Homo sapiens: one gene and its partners. Changing the gene in region 3 together with the main gene of any one other region gives a genetic interaction. Each region holds a gene or a part of one and is shown on either strand. Other genes may lie near its edges. The genes, in order: AXL, NPR1, FN3K and MAP2K5.

Region 1 (6,876 bases), on a different chromosome or scaffold from region 3:
CTCTGGAGGCACCAGAGTCCACACTCTGTACTCAGAAGGTGAGGGATTGGCTCACGGGGGCAACATGGCCCGAAAGGTGGGAGATCGTCCATCCCCTGCGGGAAAGGAGGCATCCCTAATGCATTGCACAGGCTTGAAGGGGGCACACCCCCACAGTTGGGGAGGAGGAAGCAATGATAGCTAAGAAGGAGAGGGGCACCCCAAAGAATACTACAGTATAGGGTTAGAACCTTGAAATTGCACCTAATAGTCTAGACCTGTGGACCTTTAGAATCTTAGAAACTTAGAACATTTGAGTCTTAGAACTACAGTGCCTAGAACTATAAGATTTTAGAAATGTGGATTCTTGGACTCTTAACCATGGTCCTAGAGAGGCAGAATGCAGCAAAGAACCTAAAGGTGTCCAACATTAGAAATTATTAGAACTTTGGTGTCTAGTTAGTCACAACTGAGTGTGAGAGTCTTATAACTTAGATGCTTAGGATCCGGAATCTTGGACCAATGGAATCTAGAGTGCCTTGAAACAGAACAGACCGTTAGAATCTTATTTAATCATCTAGAATCTTGGAGCATCTGATCTAGAATCTTAGACACAGAGAATCTAAGATCTTAGAGTAAGTCTTAGAATATCACATCTTAGAACACCGGACCTTAGAAACTCCATCTTTAGACTCTTGGAACTTTTGAATTGCAGATTCTAGAGCTTTCGACCCTTAGGATCTAGGATCTTATACAAGAGAATCTATTATCATAAAGCCTCAGAAACTATAATTGATCATCATTAGAATCTTAGAACTTGAGAAGATAACATTTTGAAGCCTTATGATCTAGAGCCTTACAGCCAGAGAATCTAGACTCTCAGAGCCTTAGAACATCACATTTTAGAATCCTAGGCCTTAGAACCTCCATGTCTAGAACTATAGAATCTTTAGAATCTATAATCTTACATTTTAAGGACTCTGAACTCTAGAAGAATAAACATCTAGACTCATAGAGCCTTAGCTCCTAAAATCAGAATCTTAGAACTTTAGAACCTAAAACCTTGAGGCTTTATCAAAAATGTTAGAACCAGAAAATCTAAAACCACATAATGTCAGAGCTTTAGAACAGTAGGTCTTAAGGTTGAGTGCAGTGGCTCATGCCTGTAATCTCAGCACTTTGGGAGGCTGAGGTGGGCAGATCACTTGAGGTCAGGAGTTTTAGACCAGCCTGGCCAACATGGTGAAACCCTGTCTCTACTAAAAATATAAAAATTAGCCGGGTGTGGTGGCACACACCTGTAATCCCAGCTACTTGGGAGGCCAAGGCAGGAAAATCACTTGAACTCGGTAGGTGAAGGTTGCAGTGAGGCGAGATTGCACCACTGCACTCCAGCCTGGGTGACACAGTGAGACTCTATCGCAAAAAAAAAAAAAAAAAAAAAAAAAAAAAAAGTAGGCCTTAGAACCTTAGCACTTTAATAGAATTAGAGACTTTGGAATTTCAGGTCCTTAGAACCAAAGACTCACAGCATCTTTGAAACCTAGAACCTTTGAATCTAGACTCTTTAAACCTTGGACTCTAGAGTCTTGGAATGTTAACACCTGGGAGGGCTTCAGATATTGCAATCCAACCCCTTCCTTTTACAGATGGTGATGCTACTGCTTTCAAGGTGATGCTACTGCACAGAGAAGGGGAGGGACCTGTCTGGGATGGAGGTGGGATAGGTAGGAAGACAGGGCTGCAAGTGGGGATAAGGCGTGGGGTGGGAAAGTGGGAAGGTGGAGTTTTCCCCAGTGGCAGTGCTTAGCTTGGATCCTGAGAGGGAGTACCAGGTGGAGGGTTGTCTCAGGCACCATCCTCCTGCCCTGGGGCTGCTGGGGAGCCCCTATCAGCAGGCTGAGCGGGGCTAGGGGTTGTGGAAGGGCAGAGGACATAGCGTCCAGCAGGATGGACCTCAGCCGCAGTGAGGCAGCTACAGGAATCCTTAGGGTCTGGCTGGGTTGGGGGGTCAGCTCCTCCTGCAGCTCCAGGGGGTTCAGGATAACCTCCACCCTCATCCATGTTGACATAGAGGATTTCGTCAGGCTCCTGGGCAGGAGGCAAGGCCTTCAGTGTGTTCTCCAAATCTTCCCGCAGCTCTGTAAAACTTGGCCGGTCCTGGGGATTTAGCTCCCAGCACCGCGACATCAAGGCATACCTAGGGCAGCAAAATGAGGGGTGGGAGATTGAGCAGGGACTCAGAAGGGGTGCATTCTGGAAGCCTGGGGACATTTTAGGACACTCAGGGGACTGGGGGCATTTTAGAGGGTTATAGGGAGCCTCAGCAGTTTGAGGCCATCTATGGGGATTTGGGAATTCCCAAGAATTTCTGAGTTGGGTCCTGGGAGACTCAGGAGCTGGGAAGGGTCTCGGGAAACCTGTCTGTATATGGAGTAGTATTCTGATGAGGGTTTGCTAGAACAGACCTTCCAGCTCCCCAGAACAGACTTGCATCAAAGCCTGGCTATGCCACTTACAAGCTGTGCTGGTTTAAAATAGGTCCATAAATTCTTTGACCCTCCTCCCTGCAAAAGACGGAGAATAAATCCTCTCCTCTTGAGCATGGGCAGGACTTAGTGACTTGCTTCTGATTTGGCAGAAGTGATGGTGTGTGTGACTTCTGAGACTAGGTCATAAAAGGCATGTGGCTTCCTCGCACTTTCTCCTGGGTTGCCATGTTGTGAGTAAGCTCAAGCAGTGCCACAAAGGGGTCCACATGGCAACGAACTGAAGCCTCCTGCTACAGCCATGTGAGTAAGCCACCTTGAAAGCAATCCTCCAGTCCCAACCTTCAGATGACTGCAGCCCCCAGTGATATCTTTGTAACTTCATTAGAGATCCTGAACCAAAATCACCCTGCTAAGCTGTTCCCAGTATCCAACTTTCAGAAATTGTGTGAGATAATAAACGTTTGTTGTTTTAAACTACTTGATTTGGGGATATAGATAACAAACACACCAGCTGTGCAATCTTTGGCAAATAAATCACCCTCCCAGACTGGGCGTGGAGGCTCATGCCTATAATCCCAGCACTTTGGGAGGCTGGGACGGGTGGATCATGAGGTCACGATATCAAGACCATCCTGGCTAAGGTGGTGAAACCCCATCTCTACTAAAAATACAAAAAAAATTAGCTGGGCATGGTGGCACACGCCTGTAGTCCCAGCTACTTGGGAGGCTGAGGCAAGAGAATCGCTAGAACCTGGGAGGTTGCAGTGAGCCGAGATGGAGCCATTGTGCTCCAGCCTGGGCGACAGAGCGAGACTCAAGTCAATAAATAAAAATAAATTACCCTCCCTGTAGGACTGGGTTTTCTTATCTGCAGAATGGGAATCATAATGATACCTATCTACATCACATGGCTGTGGTAAGGACCAAATGATTTGACACATGCCAGGCACCTAAAACAGTGCCTTCTAGTCAGTTATATGAAAATGTTAGCTGTTATTTTTACTCGTCTCAGCTCTTGGAGTACCCAAGGTGGACTGAGGAGTCTGACGCCCCAGGCTGTCTCCTCCTGACCCAAAGTCATCCTCTCTTTACCCTCAAAGTGCTAGCTAAATGTCACGGCCTTCTCCGCATACTCCAATATTGCAAAGTTTGGTAAGCATTCCCTGAAGGATCCTGCAAATATCTCAGAGGAGACCTGAGTCTGGAGAAGGCCAATAAAACAAACTGAAGGGTTTTGCAGAGAGTCTCAGGTGTTGAGGAGCATGTCGGGGAAGCATGGTGTGCTCAGGAGTCTGGAATGAGAAGTCTCTGGGAGTGCATGTCCCAAAGGCAGGGCCGCCAGGTAAGACTGTGCTGTTATTCACTACCCAAGGATACCTGGCTTGGGGGTGGGGAGCCAGGGGGCTGATTCAGCCCACACAGACAAAGGAGGAAAGGGTGCCTTTAGCTGATTTGCACCCCACTGGTTAGTGATGGCCCTACTCAGAGCATTGGTGAGGGGCAAGTGGGTCACTCAGCATTCTCAGGGATTCTGTCTGGGTTATAGAGAGTCCTGGACCTGTGAGGGCCATCTGGGGGTAGTCAGGGGTTTGGAATGAATTCTGGGTTGGGGGAGACCTAAGGGTCCTCACAGTCCATCCAGACAGTCCGCAGGCTGCTTCAGGCGATTTCCCTGGCGCAGATAGTCATAAATCTCGCTGTTCTCCACGCCCGGATATGGGGTTTGGCCTCTTGTGGCAATCTCCCACATTGTCACCCCGAAGGACCACTGTGAGGGGCAGAGGGAATTAGACAGTCTCTCCTGCACAGAATCACCCGCACCAATACCCAGGTTCATGGGTACACCCACACTTATGTACACATGTTCACAACCATCCTCTGGGAGCATCACAAGTATTCATAGAAACATAATACTTTAGCCGGGTGCGGTGGCTGATGCCTGTAATCCCAGCACTTTGGGAGGCTGAGGTGGGCGGACTGCCTGAGGTCAGGAGTTTGAGACCAGCCTGGCCAATATAGTGAAACCCCGTCTCTACTAAAAATACAAAAATTAGCTAGGCATGGTGGTGGGCGCCTGTAATCCCAGCTACTCGGGAGACTGAGGCAGGAGAATTGCTTGAACCCGGGAGGCAGAGTCTGCAGTGAGCTGAGATCATGCCATTGCACTGCAGCCTGGGTGACAGTGCGAGACTCCATCTCAAAAAAAGAAAAATATATATATATAAAAAATACTTGACACGGGTATACACATGAATAAGTAACTTTTGTGGATGCATACACATGCTCACCATCACACACATATACACACTTCATGGACACATGAGCTCATGTGCCACTCTGCACACCCTGGCTGTCCACATTCTATGAGTGTGCGCACATGCACGCATAATCACTGCAGCTTCTTCTAACCTAAACTGTCTACATTGCTACCATGCACACGTGGGCCTGTATTTATCCTGGGCATGTACACACCACTATTCAGAGATGCCCACCATACCCCAAGACATGCCCAGCCCATGTGGACAAGCCCCTGCAAAGGGAAGCCCACATGTCCCTGTGACCCTTGCATCCACAGCCACCCAGGCATAGTGTGTGATGGTCAGGCCATGCCCTCCCATGGTTCCCCACTCTTGGCGGGAGTGCACCTACCACATCGCTCTTGCTGGTGTAGACACGGTCAGCTAGACTCTCAATGGCAATCCACTTGACTGGCATCTTGGCGATACGTCCCTGGCGGTAGTAGTCCCCATTGTAGATCTTCTTGGAGAGCCCGAAGTCCGCCACACACACGGACATGTTCTCATTCAGCCTGTTTGGATTGGGGAAAGGAACAGGGTCAGGGCATCAGTCACCTCCACCAGGAAGCCTGCCCTGGCTCTCAGACACATCTGCACCTCCTCCCCTCACTGTCCTGGCTGCGGGTGGGGATCTGTCTCCTAAACCTTCATCCCAGTCCAGAAGGGAACTGCTTTACTTCTTGTTCACTCTGTCAAGTGAGGATGGGACAAAGGGCTTCCTCAGGACTTCCCAATTTTGGCTCTTTGCTAGATTCTAAGGTCCTTCCTTGGGTTTGATTCCTTGATGAAATTTTTTTTTCTTGAAGTATACTGTACATATGGAAATGTGCACAAGTCATAAGTAAGCAGCTCACTGAATTTTCACACACACACACACACACACCCATGTAACCAGCACCCAGATTAAGAAACAGAACATGGCTGGGCATGGTGGCTGGCGCCTGTAATCCCAGCACTCTGGGAGGCCAAGGCAGGTGGATCACTTGAGGTCAGGAGTTTGAGACCAGCCTGGCCAATGTGGTGAAACTCTGTCTCTACTAAAAGTACAAAAATTAGCCAGGTGTGTTGGTGCACATCTGAAATCCCAGCTACCTGGGAGGCTGAAGCAAGAGAATCAGTTGAACCCAGTAGGCGGAGGTTGCAGTGAGCTGAGATCACGCCACTGCACTCCAGCCTGGGCAACAGAGTGAGTGAGACTCCGTCTCAAAAACAAACAAAAAAAAAAACAGGCACAGTGGCTCAAGCCTGTAATTTCAGCACCTTGGGAGGCCAAGGTGGGAGGATCACTTGAGGCTAGGAGTTCAAGACCAGCCTGGAAAACAAAGCAAGACCCTGTCTCTACAAAAAAATTTAAAAATTAGCTGGACATGGTGGCACATGTCTGTAGTTCCAGCTACTTAGGAGGCTGAGGCAGAAGGATAGCTTGAGCCAGGAGTTGGAGGCTACAGTGAGCTATGATCATGCCACTGCACCCCACCCTAAAGGACAGAGTAAGACTCTGTCAAAACAAAAAAGAAAAGAAAGAAAAAAAGGGAAAGAAAGGGAAAGAGAGAGGGAGGGAGGGAAGGAAGGAAGGAAGGAGATAAAGAGAGAGAAAGAGAAAGAAAAGAAAGAAGAAAGGACAGAGAGAAAAAGAAAGAAAAGAAAGAAAAAGAAAGAAAGAGAAAAAAAGAAAAGAAAATCCACAGGACATTCATATGATGGAATACCATACCACACAGCAAAGAAAAAGAGCAAACTACCCCTACACAGATCCATCTCAAAAACATCATGCTGAGCCATAGAAGCCAGACACAAAGCAGTACAAACTGCATGATCCCATTTGTATGACTTTTCAGAACAGGCTAAACTAGCACTGAGAAGTCAGGATAGTGGGTACCACTTGGCGGTAGTGATTGGGAAGACGAAGAGGCATGAAGGAGCCTGCTGGGGCTAAGAAATATTCTTTACCTTCATCTAGTGGTTACATGGGTCTATACCCATAAAAATTCATCGAGCTGAGCTGCATGTGTATATTTTAGTGTATGTAAAATATACATCAATTTTTTTTTAGATGGGATCTTGCCCTGTTGCCCAGGCAGTAGTGAAGTGATACCATCATGGCTGAC
Region 2 (7,854 bases), on a different chromosome or scaffold from region 3:
TCATCTGAGTCCTTTAGCAATTTATCCATGTCTCCCCTGTAGTGCTTAATGCATGTTGCATTACGGTTATTTGTCCCAAATGGAGCTCCTCAAAGGCACGGACTATATATATTCATCTTTATGCCCTCGGCACCTAGTGGGTGCTTAATGCACCGAAGGTTCTCTGGAAATGTTTGCTGACCTGAAGTTTGGTGATCTTATGTCCTGCTTAGGCGCAGCGTTGGAGAGGTTGGCGCTGCAATGCCGTCAATAACCCCCGATGACCATTAGAGGGCACACTGATTCCACAGCAGTCTGCACCGGGGGCCCAGCTGTCAAGTGCTCCAAAACCCACTCCCCAATTTACGCCTCCAGTGGTCATCTCCCACAGCCTTCATTTTAACAACCCTCAACACAAAACAGTCATTTTCTTGGGGCGTCCCTGAGGTGTGAACCTCCTCCCTCCCAGACACCCACCCACTCTCCCCATCTTCCTACAATTTGGGCGCTAAAGATTTAATTCCTCTCTGACACCAGATCATTTTTTCACAGCTAATCTGCACAGTCTGGAAGGTGGCAGGGAGGGAAAGAGAGGGAGATCATAGAAGGAATGGGTAACAAGCACTCTGGGCTCACCTTCAACTTTAACGGACTTTCCAGAAACCCGTCACCTTCCACCCCACACCCAAACACACACATCCACGCACTCACTCAGTTTCCTGCCAGGATCCCAAACCAGCACACCTTTCCCTCTTCCCCCGAGGAGACCAGGTAGGAGGCGAGGGAAAAGGTGGGGCGCAAGTGGGCCCCGGTTGCTTCCACACACACCCTCCGTTCAGCCGTCCTTTCCATCCCGGCGAGGGCGCACCTTCAGAGGGTCCTGTCCTCCAAAGAGGTAGGCGTGGGGCGGCCGAGACCGGGGAAGATGGTCCACGGGGAAGCGCGCGGGCTGGGCGGCGGGGAGGAAGGAGTTAAAGATCCTGGATTGGCTCTTCTGTCACTGAGTCTGGGAGGGGAAGCGGCTGGGAGGGAGGGTTCGGAGCTTGGCTCGGGTCCTCCACGGTTCCCTCCGGATAGCCGGAGACTTGGGCCGGCCGGACGCCCCTTCTGGCACACTCCCTGGGGCAGGCGCTCACGCACGCTACAAACACACACTCCTCTTTCCTCCCTCGCGCGCCCTCTCTCATCCTTCTTCACGAAGCGCTCACTCGCACCCTTTCTCTCTCTCTCTCTCTCTCTCTAACACGCACGCACACTCCCAGTTGTTCACACTCGGGTCCTCTCCAGCCCGACGTTCTCCTGGCACCCACCTGCTCCGCGGCGCCCTGCGCGCCCCCCTCGGTCGCGCCCCTTGCGCTCTCGGCCCAGACCGTCGCAGCTACAGGGGGCCTCGAGCCCCGGGGTGAGCGTCCCCGTCCCGCTCCTGCTCCTTCCCATAGGGACGCGCCTGATGCCTGGGACCGGCCGCTGAGCCCAAGGGGACCGAGGAGGCCATGGTAGGAGCGCTCGCCTGCTGCGGTGCCCGCTGAGGCCATGCCGGGGCCCCGGCGCCCCGCTGGCTCCCGCCTGCGCCTGCTCCTGCTCCTGCTGCTGCCGCCGCTGCTGCTGCTGCTCCGGGGCAGCCACGCGGGCAACCTGACGGTAGCCGTGGTACTGCCGCTGGCCAATACCTCGTACCCCTGGTCGTGGGCGCGCGTGGGACCCGCCGTGGAGCTGGCCCTGGCCCAGGTGAAGGCGCGCCCCGACTTGCTGCCGGGCTGGACGGTCCGCACGGTGCTGGGCAGCAGCGAAAACGCGCTGGGCGTCTGCTCCGACACCGCAGCGCCCCTGGCCGCGGTGGACCTCAAGTGGGAGCACAACCCCGCTGTGTTCCTGGGCCCCGGCTGCGTGTACGCCGCCGCCCCAGTGGGGCGCTTCACCGCGCACTGGCGGGTCCCGCTGCTGACCGCCGGCGCCCCGGCGCTGGGCTTCGGTGTCAAGGACGAGTATGCGCTGACCACCCGCGCGGGGCCCAGCTACGCCAAGCTGGGGGACTTCGTGGCGGCGCTGCACCGACGGCTGGGCTGGGAGCGCCAAGCGCTCATGCTCTACGCCTACCGGCCGGGTGACGAAGAGCACTGCTTCTTCCTCGTGGAGGGGCTGTTCATGCGGGTCCGCGACCGCCTCAATATTACGGTGGACCACCTGGAGTTCGCCGAGGACGACCTCAGCCACTACACCAGGCTGCTGCGGACCATGCCGCGCAAAGGCCGAGGTGAGACGCTGGCACACCCCGTCCCGCCGCTTAGCCGCAGGGCCTCCCCTCTGACCTGCCGGAGGCATCGGGACTTTCTCTCTCATCTGGGGGCACTCTTCTTTCTCCTCGCCGTTCTTCATTCTACTTTCAGCTCCCTGGCCCTTTCTACAGCTGAGTTTCTATTTCCCTCTCTTCTTCCGCCACCCCCACCACGTCTCTATCCTCTCATCTCCCCGACCCCCACTCATTCCCTCCCACCCTAGCACAGCTCGGTTCCGGTCCCTTTTTCCCTCCCACATTTTCTCTCTTCCCTATAGCCTTCTCCCTTCTTTCATCCTCTCCTCTCATTGCGCCTCATCCCCTCTCTTCTCCCCCTCCCTCTCCCTCCTCTCTCCCTCCTGGCCCCATCCTTCTCCACCTTCAGCTCCACTATCCCCCTCTCCCTACCCGTTCCTTCCTCCCTTCCGCCTCCCCCTTCCTCCTCCCGCCCACCGCCCCGCACCCGCCCGTTCCACCCTTCGACTTTCTCCTGCTGTGGCCTAGGCTGAGCCGGGAGTTACCACTTAACTCTCACTGGGTCTCTCCTGCACCCTATCTCTAAACTTCCTCCCTTGGGTGCCCCAGCTTTCCTACTCCTGTCTCTCCCGCAGTACCTAGGCTTCTCTCTCTGACTCTCCGTCTTTCTCCAGTTATCTACATCTGCAGCTCCCCTGATGCCTTCAGAACCCTCATGCTCCTGGCCCTGGAAGCTGGCTTGTGTGGGGAGGACTACGTTTTCTTCCACCTGGATATCTTTGGGCAAAGCCTGCAAGGTGGACAGGGCCCTGCTCCCCGCAGGCCCTGGGAGAGAGGGGATGGGCAGGATGTCAGTGCCCGCCAGGCCTTTCAGGTGAGTACCTAGGTTTGAAGCCCAGGCTGTCTCAGCTTGTGGCACATCATTTCTGGGCACTGTGTCCCTCAGCGTCTGAAAGAATTCCAGAAAAGAGGTTTTTGTCTGTTTGTTTCTTTATGCACTCCTGGTAACTCACAGAACAGAAAAGAGGTTGGTGATGCTCACTGGGAATTAGGCAATGAAGGGCAGGGGACTGCCCAGGGGCGCTTCGCCACCAGCAGGCTAAAAAGATAAGAAAATGGGCTTGAGGCGGGAGGAGGATAAAGTCCCACAGCCTGGACAGGACTTGGAGAAGGCATCCCATTGGATCCCCTGCTTTGGAATGGGCATCACTTCATGCAGGGCATAGGGTCCAGTTTGACCTTGAGCTAAGCAGAGACGCAGCTCTGGGAGGTGGGCTCCCAACTGTTGGGGCCCCACAGTACTAGGGAATAGTCAGCTCCCAACTCTCTGCTCTCCACTGACCCCTTTCTCAGGCTGCCAAAATCATTACATATAAAGACCCAGATAATCCCGAGTACTTGGAATTCCTGAAGCAGTTAAAACACCTGGCCTATGAGCAGTTCAACTTCACCATGGAGGATGGCCTGGTAAGAAGGGGTCCCGGGACCCTCCAGCGTGGACCTCCAGCCCCCACTCCATGACCCTCTGCCAGCCTCCATCCTTCCCTATTCCCAGTTCTCCCCTTCCTTCCCTCCCTTCCCATTGTTCCATGTTTCTCGTGATGATGGAGGAGGACACTGGCAAGTTCAGCCTCTGAAACTCAGGTCATCATCAGTAATATGGAGACGATACATCCTGCCCTGTCTACCTAGTAGGATTCAGGAAGTGATGCTAATCCAAAGGCATCGTTTAAATAGTAAAATCTCCCTGTGATATAGGGGTGTTATTTTCTCCCATCCTCTTCCAAAATCCCAGTGCCTCTTGTTCCCTTCCCCACAGCTCCCACCTCCATGCCCTTCATATGCCCACCCCAGCCGACCTCTGTTTGCCCCTACAGGTGAACACCATCCCAGCATCCTTCCACGACGGGCTCCTGCTCTATATCCAGGCAGTGACGGAGACTCTGGCACATGGGGGAACTGTTACTGATGGGGAGAACATCACTCAGCGGATGTGGAACCGAAGCTTTCAAGGTCAGGGCCTGGAGGTGGCTGGAATGGGCTGCCTTGGGGGATGAATCCCAGGTGCCCAGTGTCAAGCCATGAGAAGCCTATTGTCCTGCAGCAGTTACCTATGCACACCAGCCTTTTCCTCCACAGCTTTTTTCAGGCCCATCCCTCAGAAGTCCTACAAAGTGTCCAATCTCAATCATCCCTGCTGGGCACTGAGTTCTTTTACCTTTCTTTTTCTTTTTTCTTTTTTTTTTGAGATGGAGTCTCGCTCTGTCCCCAAGACTGGAGTGTGGTGGTGCAATCTCGGCTCACTTCAACCTCCGCCTCCCAGGTTCAAGCAATTCTCCTGCCTCAGCCTCCTGAGTAGCTGGGATTACAGGTGCCCTCCACCAACACTTGGCTAATTTTTTGTATTTTTTTTAGTAGAGACAGGGTTTCACCACGTTGGTCAGGCTGGTCTTGAACTCCTGACGTCAGGTGATCTGCCCGCCTCAGCCTCCCAAAGTGCTGGGATTACAAGCATGAGCCACAGTGCCCGGCCGTTTTACCATTTACTATCATTCTGTATACATGTATGTTTGGAAGGCAAGGCAAAAAAGATTAGAGGATGAAGAGATGAAGTGGGGCACCCCTGAACTTCTATTCTCTCAAACATAGTCATCTTCCCCCATGTCCTCAGGTGTGACAGGATACCTGAAAATTGATAGCAGTGGCGATCGGGAAACAGACTTCTCCCTCTGGGATATGGATCCCGAGAATGGTGCCTTCAGGGTAAGTTTGTGCACCCAGAAGACAGTGCCAATTCCAAATGACATCTCACCCTCCTACTTCCCCCCCACAGCCCTGCCAGGGCACCTGTTTATCCTGTAGCCATTCCACCATGCCTGGACACTTACAAGAGCCCTGGATAAAACAGACCCAGCTCCAGTCTGGGGAAGCCACCAGAATGATAGGGACTCACAGGCATCACACTTGGGGAGCCCCATGCCTGAGGAGGGAGCACAAGCCTGCCCTCGGGGAGCTCCGAAGGGAGGCAGGCAGGACCGCCTCCCAGCAGAGACAGGGCTGTGAAAGATGCACATTACACAGCTCTGCAAGCGAGCAGGGACAGGAAGGCGCTGAGGCCAATGGCCACAAGGGACAGGTCATCCAGAGAAGGCCTCCTGGAAGACGGGCACATGGACTGGGCCTGCGAATGTAGGCTAAGGTGAACATTACCTTCTCCTGTTTTCTACCAAGAAAATAAGTAGAGAAAAATCAATGCTTGGTTGGTACTTCAACCAAGATTATAAACTCCCTGAGTGTAGAGATCGGGTTCTAAATGGAGTTTTCTTTATAAACCCCTTGATAGTTTTCAGGTGTTTCCACTTGAGTACTATGTGTGTGGTATGAGGTCCTGTGTCCAGTTGCAGTGGGGACTTGGTAAGCAGGTGACAACCCAGATATATATGTAGGCTCTAGAAGCAGAGCTGGGGTAGGTGGGAGGTGAGACTGCTGCACTCACAGCATGCCTTCCCCGCAGGCCCTGGCCTAGCCACCACTCCTGCTCTCCCTTAGGTTGTACTGAACTACAATGGGACTTCCCAAGAGCTGGTGGCTGTGTCGGGGCGCAAACTGAACTGGCCCCTGGGGTACCCTCCTCCTGACATCCCCAAATGTGGCTTTGACAACGAAGACCCAGCATGCAACCAAGGTGACTGCCCCTTGCCTTCCAGGCCTCCATCCCAGAGATGCTGCATCCTTCCCCTAAGCACAGTCGAGTAGGTGCTCCTGTCCCATGCTGAGGGCTTTCTGGAGAATGACTCCTGCCTTTTTCTTCCCTTCATCCATCATCCCAGTTCACTGATGGACTATTAGAAAGTTCTTCCTCCTGCTGTCTAACCCAAATCTCTCTTGCTGCAATATGGACTCTCTCCTGCAGATCACCTTTCCACCCTGGAGGTGCTGGCTTTGGTGGGCAGCCTCTCCTTGCTCGGCATTCTGATTGTCTCCTTCTTCATATACAGGTGAGCTGTGATGTGGGGGGTTGAGTGAGGCTGGGGGACCCGGAGAACCAATAGCAGAGGAGGCGGTGGGGACCCAGAGGGAAGAGGGCAGGGGTGAAGGGGCACCAGGGGAAAACCAAGGGAGATGAGGAAGAAAGGAGGCTTAAAAGCCAGAGGAGAAAGAAAGAGAAGGGAATGGCAGGGCGAGGGGAGGAGACAAGGATAGGAATGGCCAAGGAGAGTCAGAAAGATCCAAGAAGCAGAGAAGTTGATGGGTGACATCATAGGGGCGTGGACTGGTTTTCCTTGCTACTCTTGCAGGCCAGATAGGAAGCAACTTTCTGAACCTTTGCAATCATGCCCATGTTAGCTGAGGAGGGTGAGCCCTGGTGTGTGCCAGGTGCCCAACCTAGAATGGAGAAGGGAGCTGAATGAGCCTTGTTCCTGCCGTCCAGTGGAGGCTAAAATGAAGTACAGGAGGAGTTAATGATATACAAAAGCAAGGAGGGAGGGGAGAAAAATCACTGCTGGTTGAGCATATAATGTGTGCCAGGCACTTCCACGTACACTATTTCTTTCTTTCTTTTTTTTTTTTTTTTTTTTTTTTGAGACGGAGTCTCGCTCTGTTGCCAGACTGGAGTGCAGTGGCATGATCTAGGCTCACTGCAACCTCCGCCTCCCAGTTTCAAGCAATTCTCCTGCCTCAGCCTCCCATGTAGCTGGGACTACAGGCACATGCCACCACGCTCAGCTAATTTTTGTATTTTTAGTAGAGACAGGGTTTCACCATGTTGGCCAGGATGGTCTCGATCTCTTGACCTCATGATCCACCCACCTTGGCCTCCCAAAGTGCTGGGATTACAGGCATGAGCCACTGTGCCTGGCCTCATGTTCACTATTTCTTTTCATTCTTATAATAGTTAAGAATGAAATAGATATTGCGGCCTCATTCCCAAGTAAGGACATTGAGGTGATTCCCCCAAGGTCCCCAGTAAGGCAGAATTTCCCCCAGCCATCCTGATTCTCAGTCCAGAGGATAGAATTCCCCCTCCATCTCTGAGTGCATGGTGTGGTCCCACGGCTCTGAGGAGGGGCTGCTGAGCACCCTGCCCTGGGTCAGCGGCTCAGCCACAGGCTCAGATGCAGCCTTCGTATCCCAGGAAGATGCAGCTGGAGAAGGAACTGGCCTCGGAGCTGTGGCGGGTGCGCTGGGAGGACGTTGAGCCCAGTAGCCTTGAGAGGCACCTGCGGAGTGCAGGCAGCCGGCTGACCCTGAGCGGGGTAAGAACGCTGGTGTTTGTGTTGGGGGGCAATAAAGGAGAGGTGGGTACAAGGGGCAGTGCCTGAGGGATAGGTAAGGGAGCAGGATTCTAGTCCCAGCTCTGCTTTCACTTGCTGTGTGACCTTGAGCGACTCATAGTCCCTCTCCGAGACTGTCTCAGATGATGATTACAGCAGCAGAGCCTCCCTCACAGGGCTCTTTTAAAGGTCAGAGGAGATAGTACCTGTGAAAACACTTTAAAAAAAAAAAAAGTAAATGAGGAGGAAATTTTATGATGTGGAACATAAAGCAGGGTGGGCCAGGCACAGTGGCTCACATCTGCAATCCCAGCACTTTGGGAGACCGAGGCAGGAGGATTGCTTGTG
Region 3 (8,558 bases):
TGGTGGTACACCTGTAGTCCCAGCTACTCTGCAGGCTGAGGCAGAAGAATCATTTGAGCCCAAGAGGCAGAGCTTGCAGTGAGCCTAGACTGCACCACTGCACTCCAGCCTGGGCGACAGAGTAAGACTCTGTCTCAAAAAACAAAAAAAAAAGGAAAGAAAAAGCAAAAGAAAAAGATGGACTGGGTGTGGTGGCTCACACCTGTAATCCCAACACTTTGGGAGGCCAAGGCAGGCGGATCACTGAGGTCAGGAGTTTGAGACCAGTCTGGCTAACATGCTACTAAAAATACAAAAATTAGGCCGGGCGCGGTGGCTCACGCCTATAATCCCAGCACTTTGGGAGGTCAAGGCGGGTAGATCACGAGGTCAGCAGATCGAGACCATCCTGGCTAACATGGTGAAACCCCGTCTCTACTAAAAATACAAAAAATTAGCCGGGCATGGTGGCGGGCGCCTGTAGTCCCTTCTACTCGGGAGGCTGAGGCAGGAGAATGGCGTCAACCCAGGAGGCAGAGTTTGCAATGAGCCAAGATCGCGCCACTGCACTCCAGCCTGGGTGACAGAGCGACACTCCGTCTCAAAAAAAAAAAAAAAAAAAATAGCTGCGTGAGGTGGTGGGGTGCCTGTAATCCCAGCCACTCGCGAGGCTGAGACAAGAGAATTGCTTGAACCCAGGAGGCGGAGTTTGCAGTGAGCCAAGATTGCATCACTGCACTCCAGCCTGGGAAACAGAGCAAGACTCTGTCTTGGAAAAATAAAATAAAAATAAAGTACAAAGCAAATGATGGGTTCAAATATACTTATTTTGGGCAGGTGTGGTGGCTCAGGCCTGTTATCCCAGCACTTTGGGAAGCCGAGGTGGGTGGATCACTTGAAGTCAGAAGTTTGAGACCAACTCAGCCAACATGGTGAAACCCCATCTCTACTAAAAATACAAAAATTAGTCAGGTGTGGTGGTGGACACCTGTAGTCCCAGCTACTCAGGAGGCTGAGGTGGGAGAATCATTTGAACCCTGGGGGCAGAAGTTGCAGTGAGCCGAGATTGCACCACTGCACTGCACTCTAGCCTGGGCAACAGAGCGAGACTGTGTTTCAAAAAAAAAAAAAATATATATATATATATATATATGTGTATATATATATATTTTATGCAGCCTCATTACAGCCAAACTTATCTAGGAAAACCAGTCACATACCAGAAAGCAGTAACTTTTTATCTCCATTAAGAATGGCAGGGTGGAACTCTTGGCCCTGCCTCTGATAACCGGGCAGTTGTGTGGACGGCTCAGCCACAGGCTTCTCCCTGTTTCTGTCTCCCTCCCCATCTCTATCCCTTTCTCTGTCTCTCTCTGTTTGTCTCTGAGTCTCTCTCTGCCTGTACACATGTGCGCATATGGGTCTCACACACACTCACCTGCTCAAGCTCTTCATCTTCAAATGCTCCATCACAAAGGCGGCCCCACCTCCCGGCAGGTCGATGACCTTCATGGGCCTCGGCACCCGCACCAGGCCCGTGCTCCTGAGGGCCTCCAGGCTGGCCACCTCCCCCTCAAACATCTGCCGGGCCTGCATCCAGAACACAGCCTTGTCAGCCTTGTTGACTCAGCCAGGGCCTCTGCCCACTGGGCCCTTGACAGAAGCTACCACGTGGGAGTCACAAGGACCTTCATTCACTGATAGCTGGCTCTGGCTGGGAGCTGGCGTCCACCACAGAGGGCAGGGTGCAGAGGGGCCCCCCGTCGGAGACGAGAGGCTGCAAGGCTGAGGCTGAGCCTGGGCCGTGAGGGGTGTGGGGTCTGCAGGCTGCTGTGACAGGAGGATGCACAGGCCACGTGTGGGTGCCCGGGAGCACTGAGGGCGTGGGGAGGTGTGAGTGAACCAAGGTCCAGAGCTGGACCCCCGGGCTACCCACCTTCCTTGCTGCCTCTTAGGGTGGGGCAGCCACAGCAGAGGCCTCACTGGAGCTAACTTGGGCACACACGTCAGGCAGGGAAGAAGAGGGCTGGGCCCATCAGGCGGGGCCTCAGGTCCAGGGCAGGGGCTGGGAAGGTAAAAGGCACGGCACACCCGGCCGGCCCCCAACGCCTCCCGTGGGACCTGGGCCTTCCTGTTTCTGAAATATTCCCACAAACATTCCAGTTTTCAGTTAGGTGAACACTCACCTCACGTACAGTACACATTGGTTGAAAACATGCATTGACGAACGTGGTCCATGAATACCTTGGCCTATAGAATTGCATGTTTGTTTTGAGACAGGGTCTCACTCTGTCACCCAGGCTGGAGGGCAGTGGCATGATCTCGGCTCACGGCAGCCTCCGCCTCCTGGGTTCAAACGATTCTCCTGCTTCGGCCTCCTGAGTAGCTGGGATTACAGGTGTGGGCCACCCCACCCCGCTGTGTTTTTCTGTATTTTTACTAGAGATGGAGTTCCACCGCCGTGCGTGGTGGCTCGCACCTGTAATCCCAGCACTTTGGGAGGCCGGGGTGGGCGGATCACAAGGTCAGGAGATTGAGACCATCCTGGCTAACACGGTGAAACCTCGTCTCTACTAAAAATACAAAAAATTAGCCAGGCAAGGTGGCGGGCACCTGTAGTCCCAGCTACTCGGGAGGCTGAGGCAGGAGAATGGAGTGAACCGGGAGGCGCAGCTTGCAGTGAGCCGAGATCCAGCCTGGGCGACAGAGCAAGAGTCCGTCTCAAAAAAAAAGAGATGGAATTTCACCATGATGGCCAGGCTGGTCTCAAACTCCTGGCCTCAAGTGATCCACCTTTCCTCAGTCGCCCAAAGTGTAGGACTGCATGTTTAAAAAAATCAAACCTCATGAATGAGACCAAAGCATCTGCTGGTGCACACGAACAGAACGCCCTTTCCTTCAAAGTACCCCAGGGAAAGCCCAGGCACAGCCTCCCCAGCCTGGCAGCCCTGGCCAGCCTGCACCGAGGGTGGGTGTGAGTGTCCACAGGTGGGAGGGCGGCCGGCACACCCCAGCCCTGCTCCAGGGCGAGCCCCCCATGCACCAGGCCAGGAACTCCCGGCCTTGGGGCTGCTAAGCCCCAGGGGCCCCAGCATCACCTGCTCTTATGCATGGACTGAGCAGCTACTATGTGCCGGCCCCTCGTGGGGGTGGGAGGGAAGGAGGGGTCTCACCCTGCAGAGCTTTCAGGACCAGCTGAGGAAGTTTCCCAGAGCCCGTGGGAAGCCTGAACCAAAAACTGCTTCCCTGTGAGTAGGACTCCCCACTTTGAGGGATTTGGTTCTGAGCCGGCAGAGCAGGTGATGCCGGAGGATCCGATCGCACGCCCAGGCTGCATGGCTCTGGTGTTCCTCCTGCCAGCACTCCCCACCAGGACCCCTGCTGCCCCTCAGAGAGCTCCCCCACCAGAGTGTGCAGGGCCTTCTGAGCCCACTCGGGCCGGGAGGGCACCCAGGCCTGCCTTTCTCCACCTGCCGGCTCTCAAGGCTGAAGCTAACCTTCTCCACTTCCTCCGTTAACATTTTCCATACTTTTTTTTTTTTGAGACGGAGTTTCCCTCTTGTTGCCCAGGCTGGAGTGCAATGGCGCGATCTTGGCTCACTGCAACCTCCATCTCCTGGGTTCAAGCAATTCTCCTGCCTCAGCCTCCCGAGTAGCTGGGATTACAGGCCAGTGGCACCACATCCGGCTAATTATTGCATTTTTTGGTAGAGACGGGGTTTCACCATGTTGGCCAGGATGGTCTCGAACTCCTGACCTCAGGGATCCACTCACCTCGGCCTCCCAAAGTGATGGGATTACAGGTGTGAACCACCGCGCCCGGCCTTCCATACATTCTTAAACAGAACTATTTTCAGCAGGAGATAGAAATCAGGTCTAAACACAGACAAGGCCTGTGGGAAGGAGAACGCTGGCCTGGCCCGTGGGGTCCCTGCCAGGGGCCCAGCCATGTCTCTGCTTCTTTCCCACTGCCAGGAGGACGGTGGGCTGAGAGGGGCGGCCCAGAGCTGAGCCAAGGACCCCAAGCCTCACATCCCCCGACGCTTGCTGGATAGGAAAGTTAAAACCACCCCTAGAAGCCTGTGCGCTGCGCATGGAGGCCAAAGGAAGGTCACGGATCGTGCAGACACAAACCTTCACAGAACGCTTGAGCCGGGCTCACCCAGCAGGTGCCACCTCCCAAGGGCCAAAGCTGACCCCTCCCCAGGCCCAGCCCCAGGAAATGCGCCTGCCCCCGACCCCTCCGCCTTCCCAGGCCCCGCAGAGACCCGCAGAGCCCCCGCCTGCGCACGGGCCAGCACCTGCGTCCTGCGGTTGACTTTGACGAACACTGGGCCTGCGTCCGTGTCGTAGGCTCGGCCCTCGCTGATGCAGCCGGCGCCGGGGCCGCCGAAGGCCCGCAGGGTCGCGGTGCGCAGCTCGGCGCGCAGCAGCTGCTCCATGGAGTGCGGGGCGCGGGACTCTGCTCGCTCGGAAGCCCCTGTCGGCTGAGGCGCTGCGGGGCGGGGCGGGGCGGGAGCGCGCGGCGCGTGACCCCGGGCGGCGGGAGGGGCGGCCTCAGGCGGGCTCGCCGCGCGCTCCCCGCGTTCGTCCGGCTTCGCGCTTCCTGCGCCCGGGATTCGGGGGAAGCAGCCGGGAGTCCGCGCAGCTCTTCGCGGGCGCGCTGGGGCTTGAGCTCCCTGCAGGGACCCGGTATCCCTGCCCCGCAGCGGACGCAGGTCCGGCCCTCGGCCCGGGCGCTGGTCACAGGCCTGGCCGGCTTCCCACACTGCAGACCAGGCCGGGCCCAGCGGCCCCCGTGATGACGTGGGGCTTGCGCACTGGGACGCCAGGTGCCGATCGGAGAGAGAGGCTGACGTGGGGGCTCCGATGGCACGCGCTGACCCGGCCCAGGGTGGGGCTGCTGATTCCAGGATGTCCTGGGAAAGGGACTTGAGACACAGGAATGCCCACGCGCGCCCATGCATGCATACACGTGGGTACACACGCGTGCACACGAGCAGGTGCGCACCTGAGCCCAGTCCGTGCTGAAGTCATTTGACGTGAGGTTTTTTTATTGTTTGTTTTTTGTGTTTTTAAGAGATGGAGTCTCTGTCTCCCAGGCTGCAGTGCAGTGGCGCGATCTCGGCTCACTGCAAGCTCCGCCTCCCGGGTTCAAGCCATTCTCCTGCCTCAGCCTCCCGAGTAGCTGGGACTACAGGCGCCCGCCACCACGCCCGGCTAATATTTTTGTATGTTTTAGTGGAGACAGGGTTTCACCCTGTGAGCCAGGATGGTCTCAATCTCCTAACCTCGTGATCCACCCGCTCGGCCTCCCAAAGTGCTGGGATTACAGGCGTCAAGCCACCGGCCCGGCCTGCCCAGCTACATTTTGTAGTTTTAGTAGACATGGGGTTTCCCCATGTTGGCCAGGTGACCTGCGTGCCTCAGCCTCCCAAAGTGCTGGGATTACAGCCGTGAACCACCACGCCCGGCCATGCATGAGGTTTTAATCAATAAATCTGTTTTTTTTAGGGCCCCAACAATTGTCTTTTCCCACAGAGATGCAGGGGTCCTGCCGCGGGGAGGGAGCCTTTGGGAGCTGCCTATCCCCGCGGTCCTGCCCACTTGCTCAGCTGGGCTGGGGTCATCGGGAGGCTCCTTAACTCCTACATCTGGCACCTCGGCCAGGATCACTGGAACCTGGGCTTAGCGGTCACTGTCAAGCAGGACATGTCCATGTGGCCTCCTGGTGTGGCCTGAGCTTCCCTGAACATGGAGGCCAGGTTCCAAGAGTGAGCACTGGGAGAGCCAGAGCTCCCAGAGAGCTGGCAGAAGCAAAGGCCTTTTCTGACCTGGCCTCAGAAGCCACACACCATCATTTCCACCTCCTTCCATCGGTCTCCAAAGCCGCAATCAAGGCAAGGGGATCCGCAGCCACCTCTTTTTTTTTTTTGAAACAGGGTCTTGCTCTGTCACCCAGGCTGAAGTGCAATCTCGGCTCACTGCAACCTCCACCTCCCGGGTTCAAGCGATTCTCCTACCTCAGCTTCCTGAGTAGCTGGGATTACAGGCACGCGTCACCACGCCCCGCTAATTTTTGTATTTTTAGTAGAGACGGGGTTTCACCATGTTGGCCAGGATGGTCTCAAACTCCTGGCCTCAGGTGATCCGCCTGCCTCAGCCTCCCAATGTGCTGGGATTACACATGGCACCCGGCCAAGCAGCCACCTCTTGACAGGAGTGGCAGGGCTGCCGCAGAACAGCAGGTAGGACAGGAGGATGACTGTGGTGTCTGCAGAAAGGGCATGTGCCAGTCCCTGGCTTTTTCTCATCTGAAGCCCACCCTGCTATCGCATCTTGACAGAAGGTTCCTGACAGGCCAGTGTGAGCTCTCGTACGTCTGTAAATTTCTTTCTTCCTAGTTGACAGTTTGGCTGGGTATCAAATTCCAGCTTGGAGATCAGACCATGTTCTTTAGGAACCAAGAAGCTGCCAGCTCCAGTTTTGATGTTGAGAAGCTTATGGCCATTTCAGTTCTTATTCTTTGTGTGGAAACTGTTCTATCTCTGCAGGCTTTTAGGGTCTTCTCTGTGACACCAGTGAAAAATTCCCCAGGGAGGTGTCAGGGTGAGTCTCCTGTCATCCCCTGAACAGGACTGGTGGGTCCTCCAATCCTGGGACAGCTTTTAGCCCTTCATGGCGTTCTCCCTCTGTATTCTTGGTTCTCTTTTTTGGAATTCCAACACTGTGGTCTAGAGTCAGTCCTCTCTGTTACTGCCTCAAAGCCCCTTGTAATTTTTCTTCATACAACTCATGAGTCTACAGTCAGATATTAGGCGTCACACAGAGAACCATACGAGTGCTCAGGTCTCTCAGTGAGAAGAGGTGCCTGAATGAAGAAACAGATATGCAGGCACCAGGCTAGGAAGTCCTCTATGTGGGGGGTTAAGAGCTGTTGAAGATTCAAGGGCAGGGCAGTTAAGTGATCCCAAGTTTCTTAGAGAATTAGTAGAGTAAATTGTATGGTGTGCAAATAATACTGTTTTTAAAACGACCTGTATCGGCTGGTTGCAGTGGCTCATGCCTGTAATCCCAGCTCTTTGGGAGGCCGAGGTGGGTAGATCACAAGGTCAGGAGTTCAAGACCAGCCTGATCAACTTGGTGAAACCCTATCTCTACGAAAAATACAAAAAAATTTTAGTCGGGCATGGTGGCACACACCTGTAATCCCAGCTACTTGGGACGCTGAGGCAGGAGAATTGCTTGAGCCTGGGAGTGGAGGTCGTACTGAGCCGAGATCACGCCACTGCATTCCAGCCTGGGTGACAGAACAAGACTCCGTCACAAACAAAACAGAACCTGCCCTCTGTCCGGTTTCCCGTTCTGGGAGTGGTACCACCCATCTTTTTCCCCATCTGCCTGGATGTCTTAGTACAGGGCCTGGTCTGCGGTGCTGGTCAGGTGTCGGGGCCACCCATGCTTGTGATCCTACCATCAGCCCAGAGGAGAGGCGTGGACGGAGTAAAGGTGGGATGTGGACCTCAAGCTGGAGGAATCAAGGAGGACCCAAGAAAGGGGCCTGGCACAGACATGGGCAGGGTGTGGGGAGACCACAGGACAGAGCTGAGCCTGGCTACAGAGCTGGCGCCACCCAGGCCTGGGGTGTGGGCTTGATGAAGGAAGTCTGAGAATGATATCCTAACCTCACCCACCCTCCCCATCTCCTCTCGGCTCCCCTGGGCCACCCCAAGCAGAGGCCAGCTGGTTAATGGAGTGGTTCAGGCAGAGGCGTGGATGGGTGGAGGTGGGATGTGCAGACGTGGCACAGGCTTCAGTGAAATACGTGGACAAGCCGGTGGCACTGCTCCCTCTCTCTCACCACCCTGTCCTGGCCCCTCCATGGCTCCTGGGCCTTTGCCCTTCTCACAGTCCTGCTTACCCACTCACAGGAAAGCCCCCGCCAGCCCTCTCCCTGCTGCCTGGAATTCCCCCTCCAATATACCCCTTACAGTGCACCCCTACATCATCTTTCCAAGATACAGGTCTTCCCCACCCCGAGATGGAGTCTTGCCCTGTCTCCAAGTTGGAGTGCAGTGACACGATCTCGGCTCACTGCAACCTCCGCCTCCCGAGTTCAAGCAATTCTCCTGCCTCAGCCTCCCGAGTAGCTGAGATTGCAGGCGCACGTTACCACGCCCAGTTAATTTTCATATTTATGGTAGAGACAGGGTTTTGCCATGTTTGCCAGGCTGGTCTCGAACTCCTGACCTCAGGTGATCCGCCCACCTCGGCCTCCCAGAGTGCTGGGATGACAGGCGTGAGCCACTGCGCCTGGCCGCTTTAGGCGCACTTTCATTAAAAGGATGAAAAGTAAAACGCTTTGGGACAGAAGGCTTGTCTTCAGGTATCTAAAGATTCACTTCTGTGGAAAAGCTGACGCTCTGACTGTGTTAGATTAGGTGTTTTGATATAATCCCACTTACAGTAAGAAATAAAAAGTGGAGCCACATTGCCCCCAAGATCCCAAAGATGAGAACTGAGAGTCCTGGATGGGAGCTCAGGGCAACTACCATTTCCCTGGACTTCCTCCCCGGAGG
Region 4 (7,854 bases), on a different chromosome or scaffold from region 3:
AATTACACATCATGACTAAGTGGAATAATTCCAACACTGCAAGACTGGTTCATTTTGCAAAAATCAATTAATATAGTATACCATATATTAATAGAATAAAGGACCAAATATGCACGATTATTTCAATAGATATAAAACAGGCATTTGACAAAATTTAATACCCTTTCATAATTAAAAAAAAAAAAAACTCAACAAACTAGAAATAGAAAGGAATTTCCTCAACCTGACAAAGGACAACTATTCCAAACCCATGGCTAACATCATATTTAATGGTGAAAGACTGAAAGCTCTCCCTCTAAGGTCAGGAACAAGAGAAGGATGTCTGCTCTCATCAGTCTATTCAACATTGTACTGAAGGTTCTAGCCAGGGTAATTAAGCAAGAAAAGGAAATAAAAGACATTCAGAATTGAAAAGAAAGCACTAAAACTACCTCTATTTGCAGATGGCATTATCTTGTATATAGAGAACCCTAAGGAATCCACAAAAAGCTATTAACATTAGTAAACAAGTTCAGCAAGGTTGCAGAATACAAGATCAATATACAAAAATCAATTACAGTTCTATACACTGGCAATGAACAATCCAAAAATGAAATTAAGAAAAACAGCATTAAAAAAACTTAGAAGCAAATTTAACAAATAGTTACCACTTATACCCTAAAAATTATTTTTAAATCATTGAAAAACAATTAAAGAAGACCTAAGTAAGTTGAAAGACATCTGTGTTCACGGAGTGGAAGATTAAATAATGTTAAGACAGCAATATTCCCCAAGTTGATCTAAAAATTCAATTCAATTCTTATCAAAATCCCAGCTGGATTTTTTTGGAGAAATTGCCAAGCTGATTCTAAAATTCAAATGAAAATGCTAGGTATTCAAAATGGCCAAAACAATCTTGAAAAGAACAAAGTTGGAGCACTTACACTTCTCGATTTGAAACTTAAAAACTATAATAATCCAGAGTTTTCAAGTACAAGTAATCAAATATGGTGTGGTACTGGTACAAAGATAGACAACTAGATCAATGCGAGATGTATACGCATTGATCTGAAAGTACAGAAATATATGTTATGGTCAATTTTCAACAAGTATAACAAGAAAATTCAATGGGAAAAACAGTCTTTAACAAACGGTACTGGAACAAATGTATATCTACATGCAAACGAATAAATTTGGACCCCTATCTCATACCATATATAAAAATTAACTCAAAAATAAATCAAAGGCTTAAATATAAAAGCTAAAACAATAAAACTTGAGGCTGAGGTGGGAGGATCACTTGAGCCCAGGAGTTCAAAACTAGCCTGGGCAACATAATGAGACCGCAGCTCAAAAAAAGGAAAAGAAAAGAAAAAAGAAAGTGAAAAGATAAACAATAAGTGAAAATATTTGGAAATCCCATATCTGATAAGAGCCAAGTATTAGAATACATAAAGAATTCTCACAACTCAACAATAAAAGCCCAATAACTCATTTAAAAAATAGACAAAGGATTTGAAAACATATTTCTCAAAAGAAGGTATACAAATGGCCAATAAGCACATGAAAAGATGCTCAACATCATTAGTCATTAGAGAAACCTAAATCAAAACCAAAATGGGATACCATGTCACACTACAAGCCCACAATTTTAAAAAGACACAAAATGACAAGTATTGGCAAAAATATGAAGAAAATGGAACCTTATACAGTGCTGGTATGAATGCAAAGTGGTGTAAAACAGATTGGAAAAGTTTGGTAGTTTATTAAAAAGTTAAACATAAAGCTACCATATGACCTAGCAACTTTACTCCTAGGTATATACCCAAAAGAACTGAAAACACTGACCGGGTGCAGTGGCTCACACCTGTAATCCCAGCACCTCGGGAGGCCAAGGCGGGGAGATCACGAGGTCAGGAGATCGAGACCATCCTAACACAGTGAAACTCTGTCTCTACTGAAAATACAAAACTTAGCTGGGCATGGTGGCACGCGCCTGTAGTCCCAGCTACTCGGGAGGCTGAGGCAGGAGAATCGCTTGAACCCAGGAGGTGGAGGTTGCAGTGGAGGTTGCAGTGAGCCGAGATCACCCCACTGCACTCCAGCCTAGGCGACAGAGCGAGACTCTGTTTCAAAAAAAAAAAAAGAACTGAAAACGTATGTCCACACAAAAACTTGTACACAAATATATAGAGTAGCATTATTCATAATTATGCATAAAGTAGAACTATCCCAAATGTCCATCAACTAATGAAAGAATAAACAAAATGTAGTATAGCCATACAACGAAATGTTATTCAGCAATAAAAAGGAATGAAGTTCTCATATATGCAATAGTATGGATGAACACTGAAAACATTATACTAAGTAAAGGAAGCCAGACACAAAGGCCATATATTATCAGATTCCATTTATATGGAATGTCCAGAATAGGTAAATCCATAGAGACAGAAGATAAATCAGTGGTTGCCAAGGACTTGAGGAAAGAGAAAGTAGAGAGTGAGTACTAATAGGTAGGAAGTCTCTTTCTGGGGGTGGTAAAAAGTGTTTTGGAATTATACAGTGGTGATGACTACACAACCTTGTGAGTATATCAAAAACCATGGAATTGTACACTTTTAAAGGGTGAATTTTATGGTATCTGAGTTATATTTCAATAAAAAATTTTAATTTATTTGTTTTTTGATACAGGGTCTCACTCTGTTGCCTAGACTGGAGTGCAGTGGCACGATCACAGCTCACTACAGGCTTAATCTCCTGGGCTCAAGCAATCCTCCCACCTCAGCCCCCAGAGTAACTGAGACTACAGGCCCGTACCACCATGCTTAGCTAATTTTCCTTTTTTTATTTTTTTTAAGACAGAGTCTCACTTTGTCACCCAGGGTGGAGTGCAGTGGCGCGATCTTGGTTCACTGCAACCTCCACCTCCCAGGTTCAAGCAATTCTCAGTCTCAGCCTCCCAAGTAGCTGAGACTACAGGTATGCGCTACCACACCTGGCTAATTTTTGTATTTTCTATAGAGACGGGTTTTCGCCATGTTGGTTAGGCTGGTCTCAAACTCCGCTTGCCTCGGCCTCCCAAAGTGCTAGGATTACAGGAGTAAGCCACCGTGCCCGGCCATATTTTTAAAAATTTTTTTGTAAAGATGAGATCTCACTATATTGCTTATGCTGGTCTCAAACTCCTGGGCTCAAGCAATCTTCCCACCTTAGTCTCCCAAAGTGCTGGGATTACATGCGTGAACCACCGTGCCCTGTTTCAACAAAAATGTTTGAGTAGAACTGAAAAATTGAAGACTTCAAAGAAAGAATGATAAAAGTTACAACACAGTAACATGTACTGGCTCAATGAATCCACTTTTTCTGGTCAGTCTCCACAGTTACCATACTTACCTATATGGCTGTAAGATTTTTAATTTTTGACATTCTACTATAACTAATTTAGAGCATGTTGTACACCTTATGACAGTATCAAGGTACCAATGTTGGCTCATTAAAGTTTTGCAGGGCACAAACTAATTGCTTTAGTAATGTACTGAGAATCTCCACAAGGAACTAACAATATTTTCTTAAGTTGTGTTTTAATGGACTAGACTATGGAAAACTGAATATGTAAAATTTAAAGACTGCTTAGATTTAAAATTGGTAAATAATAATAATGATGACATCATTTCACTGATATGTCCCTAGAAATCTGTATTTTGCCGTAATATTCAGGTCAAGAAAGAACTACCAAAATAGAAATGAATAAAAAAATAGAGAGGGAAGGAAAGGGCTAAAGTCCAAAGAAAATTAAACACATCTTGGCTAAACAGCTGTGTTGAAAAACAATTTCTTATCTTGCAATTAAGAACCGATTTCTTTCTGAAAGACACAGGACATTGGGTTAATAGATTTCTTTAAAAGAAAATCTGTTTTGGCTATTGAAACATTAAAAGAACAGAACATCTGTTTTGCAAGTAAAGACAGATTGTGCAAAAGAATCAAATATCAAACCACCAATTAGACTAGCATTTAATCTGTTCTATTTAAATTTTCAATAAAAGTGAAGTTCAATTCTTAAAATTACAGTTCGGCTATAAATATTTAACCCCAGGAACCCCTAACACTGAAATAATCTTAGAGTATAAATGAGGTAATTATTAGCATATTTTATTATCTTTAATTCTATTTGATATCTATATCAAAACCAGGTTTTAAAGCACTATATACTCTAAAAATCATTTTAAAAGTATTATAAAAGGGAAAACTCACCATCCATGAATTCTGTACATATTGAAATCCTGTTTTCTACAAAAAATGCTCCATAAAATCCAATGATATATGATGAATCGCACTGTAACAAAAATAAGACAAAAGTAGTTATAAACCTGCAAGTCAATACCATAGGCATGCTTTACAAATAAAAATTATGAAAAAATTACCTTATAAAGAATTTCCAATTCAGACATAATTTGCTTCTGAAGTTCCAGTGTAATATCTAGTAGTATGACCTAAATATAGAAAGGTATTAATATTTTTTAATCTTCTAATTATATTAGTTATAATCACTATGAAATATAAGAACTAAAAACATGGTAGTTCCTTTATTCTTCCCCACCTCCTTCTTCTTACCACTATAATTCCCAGTAATACAAGCTGTATCTGCATCTGTCTAACCTTTTGTCCTTCTATACTGGGGGAGGTGGTACAGAAGTGATTGATGGGACCAAAGAAAAAAGCCAGGTCTCAAAGGTCAATAGTAATGGCTTTAAAAGTCAGTTAAGTTATAACACTCTTAATTTATGCACTCTATTTTAGCCACATTGGCTATTTTCAAAAGAGGAGCATAGGAATGACCCTCAAACCAATATAAAAGAATTATGTTGGCTACGTGCAGTGGCACACACCTGTAATCCCAGCACTCTGGAAGGGAGGCTGAGGTGGAAGGGTACCTGAAGGCCAGGGGTATATGGCCAGTCTAAGCACCATAGCGAGAACCCATCTCTACAAAAAAAAAAAAAAATTACCTGTGTGTAGTATGATCGGGTGGTCCCAATCTACTTGGGAGGCTGAGGTGGGAGGATCACTTGAGCTCAGGAATTTGAGGCTGAAGTGAGCCATGACTGCACCTCTGCACTCCCACCTGGGTGAAAGAGAGAAATCCTGTCTCTTAAAAAAAAGAACTATCTTGTGGTTTGTGATCAGACACTAGGCAATAAGCAGAGAGGATGATGAATAAAAATGACATTTTATTTATTTATTTAGAGACACAGTCTCATGCTGTCACCCAGGCTGGAGTGCAGTGGGGCGATCTTGGTTCACTGCAATCTCTGCCTCCCAGACTTAAACAAACCTCCCACCTCAGCCACCCAAGTAGCTGGGACCACAGGTGTGCCACCATACCCAGCTAATTTTTTGCATTTTTGGTAGAGATGGGGGTTTCACTATGTTGCTCAGGCTGGTCTCGAACTCCTGAGCTCAAGCAATCTGCCCACCTCAGCCTCCCAAAGCACTGGGATTACAGGCATGAGCCATCACAACTGGCCAAAAAATAACTTTTTTCTTTTCTTGAGACAGAGTCTTGCTCTGTTACCCAGGCTGGAGTGCAGTGGCATGATCTCGGCTTACTGCAACCTCTGTCTCCTGGGTTCAAGCAACCTCTGTCTCATGGGCTCAAGCGATTCTCGTGTCTCAGCCTCCTGAGTAGCTGGGATTACAGGTGTCTGCCACCACACCTGGCTAATTTTTGTATTTTTAGTAGAGATGGGGTTTCACCATGTTGGCCAGGCTGGTCTTGAACTCCTGACCTCAATGATCCGCTCACCTCAGCCTCCCAAAGTTCTGGGATTACAAGCGTAAGCCACCATGCCCAGCCAAAAATAACATTTTAAGTGGGGTTTTTAGTTATGAGAGAAATAAGGAATTTTAAAAATATATCATCTTTTTTTTTTCCAGTCAGGTAATGTTCTTTGCTAATCCTGTTACAGAAAGTTAAAGCTTGAAGAAATCTTATTTCATTAACTCCCTTCTTTTGAGTGAGGAGGAAACCACGTTTCCCTCCTGGGAGCCACAGAGCCTGGGAATGGTAGGACCCCCTCCTCTGGACTCAGTCTCATGGGCTTTTCAGTACTTTATGGTTTATTTAAAATATCAATCACTGAGTGATATTACCCACAGTGATTTATAACCCATAAATATAAAATATTTATAAACTTATCTAGAATAAATTCTAGTTTATTTCAAACACATATTTTTTTAAGAAAGAAGACCATACTGTTCAAATTCTACTAAGCATGTCAGTGAAACTAATTCAAGAGTAATTGTTTTATTTATTTATTTATTTATTTAGAGATGGAGTCCTGCCCTGTCACCCAGGCTGGAGTGTAGTGGCGCGATCTTGGCTCACTGCAACCTCCGCCTCCCGGGTTCAAGCCATTCTCCTGCCTCAGCCTCCCAAGTAGCTGGGATTACAGGCACCTGCCACCACACCCGGTTGATTTTTCTATTTTTAGCGCAGACAGGGTTTCACCATGTTGGCCAGGCTGGTCTCGAATTCCTGACCTCAGGTGATCCACCTGCCTCAGCCTCCCAAAGTGCTGGGATTACAGGCGTGAGCCACCGTGCCCAGCTTGTTTTTTACTTTTAAAAGGCAGTGATGAGAATAGAATAGGTGGAAAACAATTTTTATGATTTGTGGCAGAGTTTCTGGCTCTAGACATTTCTAGATAAAAACTTAACATTCAGAATTACTATGATAGTGTAGTTATGTAGCATTCAACTTTGAATTACATTTTGTATTACAACTGAAGAATATATATACAATCATACTGAAGAAAAAAGCATAAGTTATGCATTATAAACTGCTAATAGAGCAAGGAAAGAAAAGGACAATTCTAAAGTACATTTTATAGTCCTGACATTGGCCAGGCGTTGATTTGGGGAAGCGGAAGGTGGGGAAAAAAAAGGCATAGGTGGTTTCTATCAAGAGTTTGCAGCTGGGCGCGGTGGCTCACGCCTGTAATCCCAGCACTTTGGGAGGAGGCTGAGGCGGGCAGATCACGAGGTCAGGAGATCGAGACCATCCTGGCTAACACGGTGAAACCCCATCTCTACTAAAAATACAAAAAATTAGCCAGGTGTGGTGGCGGGCACCTGTAGTCCCAGCTACTTGGGAGGCTAAGGCAGAAGAATGGCGTGAACCCAGGAGGCGGAGCTTCCAGTGAGCTGAGATCACGCCACTGCACACCAGTCTGGGCAACAGAGCGAGACTCTGTCTCAAAAAAAATAAAAGAGTTTGCTTTGGGGTTATTTATAAGATCTCAGTAAACTAGACTGTAAGTGTAATACAAAACTGCCAAGAAACATTTAAACACTTCTCCTGATCAATAGTCACTTGCCAACAATATTCACTTACATTTTTGTTTTTGTGTAAAACTTACCAACAAAATTAATTCATCTAGCATCAGTTCAATCCTATAGCATAAAATACTACAGCTATTCCTACTATGATGACAAGTACCAGGAATCTCTCACTCTAAAAAAGTCTGATAAAAGGAATGAAGTTATTATTAACCTTAAATCAATGGTTCTCAACCCTGGCCTCATATCGTAATACCTAGGGCACTTGAAAAAAATCCCAAGGTGCAGGCTTTACCCCAAAACAATGGAATGAGAATCCCTTGGGTTGGGCCCACATCTTTGTTATTTTGTAAAGCTCCCCAGGTAATTCCTAACCCAAAGTAAGGTTGAGAATCACTTATTTAAGGTTTCAAAAGCCATTTATTCAGTGCTAAGATATATGACTATTAAGATATATTGCATCTCCAGGCCACCAACAACCCAGAAATGACATGATTCCACATTGCTAGCCACCCTCCTGGAATTAACCCCAAA

What was found.
Region 1: changes in FN3K (region 3) and AXL together harm fitness more than expected from each alone (negative genetic interaction), as found in Homo sapiens cells (one large-scale study listed by BioGRID).
Region 2: changes in FN3K (region 3) and NPR1 together harm fitness more than expected from each alone (negative genetic interaction), as found in Homo sapiens cells (one large-scale study listed by BioGRID).
Region 4: changes in FN3K (region 3) and MAP2K5 together harm fitness more than expected from each alone (negative genetic interaction), as found in Homo sapiens cells (one large-scale study listed by BioGRID).

What each region holds. Positions count from the first base shown.
Region 1 is NC_000019.10:41,254,856-41,261,731, reverse strand, and holds part of AXL (tyrosine-protein kinase receptor UFO isoform 1 precursor), read right to left. Parts: intron 5,281-6,876; coding exon 5,121-5,280; intron 4,240-5,120; coding exon 4,103-4,239; intron 2,180-4,102; coding exon 1,828-2,179; 3' UTR 1-1,827. UniProt on the Homo sapiens protein: Receptor tyrosine kinase that transduces signals from the extracellular matrix into the cytoplasm by binding growth factor GAS6 and which is thus regulating many physiological processes including cell survival, cell proliferation, migration and differentiation.
Region 2 is NC_000001.11:153,677,597-153,685,450, forward strand, and holds the start of NPR1 (atrial natriuretic peptide receptor 1 precursor), read left to right. Parts: upstream 1-1,091; 5' UTR 1,092-1,512; coding exon 1,513-2,233; intron 2,234-2,904; coding exon 2,905-3,104; intron 3,105-3,583; coding exon 3,584-3,697; intron 3,698-4,107; coding exon 4,108-4,243; intron 4,244-4,901; coding exon 4,902-4,993; intron 4,994-5,779; coding exon 5,780-5,915; intron 5,916-6,143; coding exon 6,144-6,228; intron 6,229-7,367; coding exon 7,368-7,488; intron 7,489-7,854. UniProt on the Homo sapiens protein: Receptor for the atrial natriuretic peptide NPPA/ANP and the brain natriuretic peptide NPPB/BNP which are potent vasoactive hormones playing a key role in cardiovascular homeostasis.
Region 3 is NC_000017.11:82,731,500-82,740,057, reverse strand, and holds the start of FN3K (fructosamine-3-kinase), read right to left. Parts: upstream 4,444-8,558; 5' UTR 4,422-4,443; coding exon 4,281-4,421; intron 1,570-4,280; coding exon 1,418-1,569; intron 1-1,417. UniProt on the Homo sapiens protein: Fructosamine-3-kinase involved in protein deglycation by mediating phosphorylation of fructoselysine residues on glycated proteins, to generate fructoselysine-3 phosphate.
Region 4 is NC_000015.10:67,642,849-67,650,702, reverse strand, and holds part of MAP2K5 (dual specificity mitogen-activated protein kinase kinase 5), read right to left. Parts: intron 4,473-7,854; coding exon 4,404-4,472; intron 4,316-4,403; coding exon 4,234-4,315; intron 1-4,233. UniProt on the Homo sapiens protein: Acts as a scaffold for the formation of a ternary MAP3K2/MAP3K3-MAP3K5-MAPK7 signaling complex.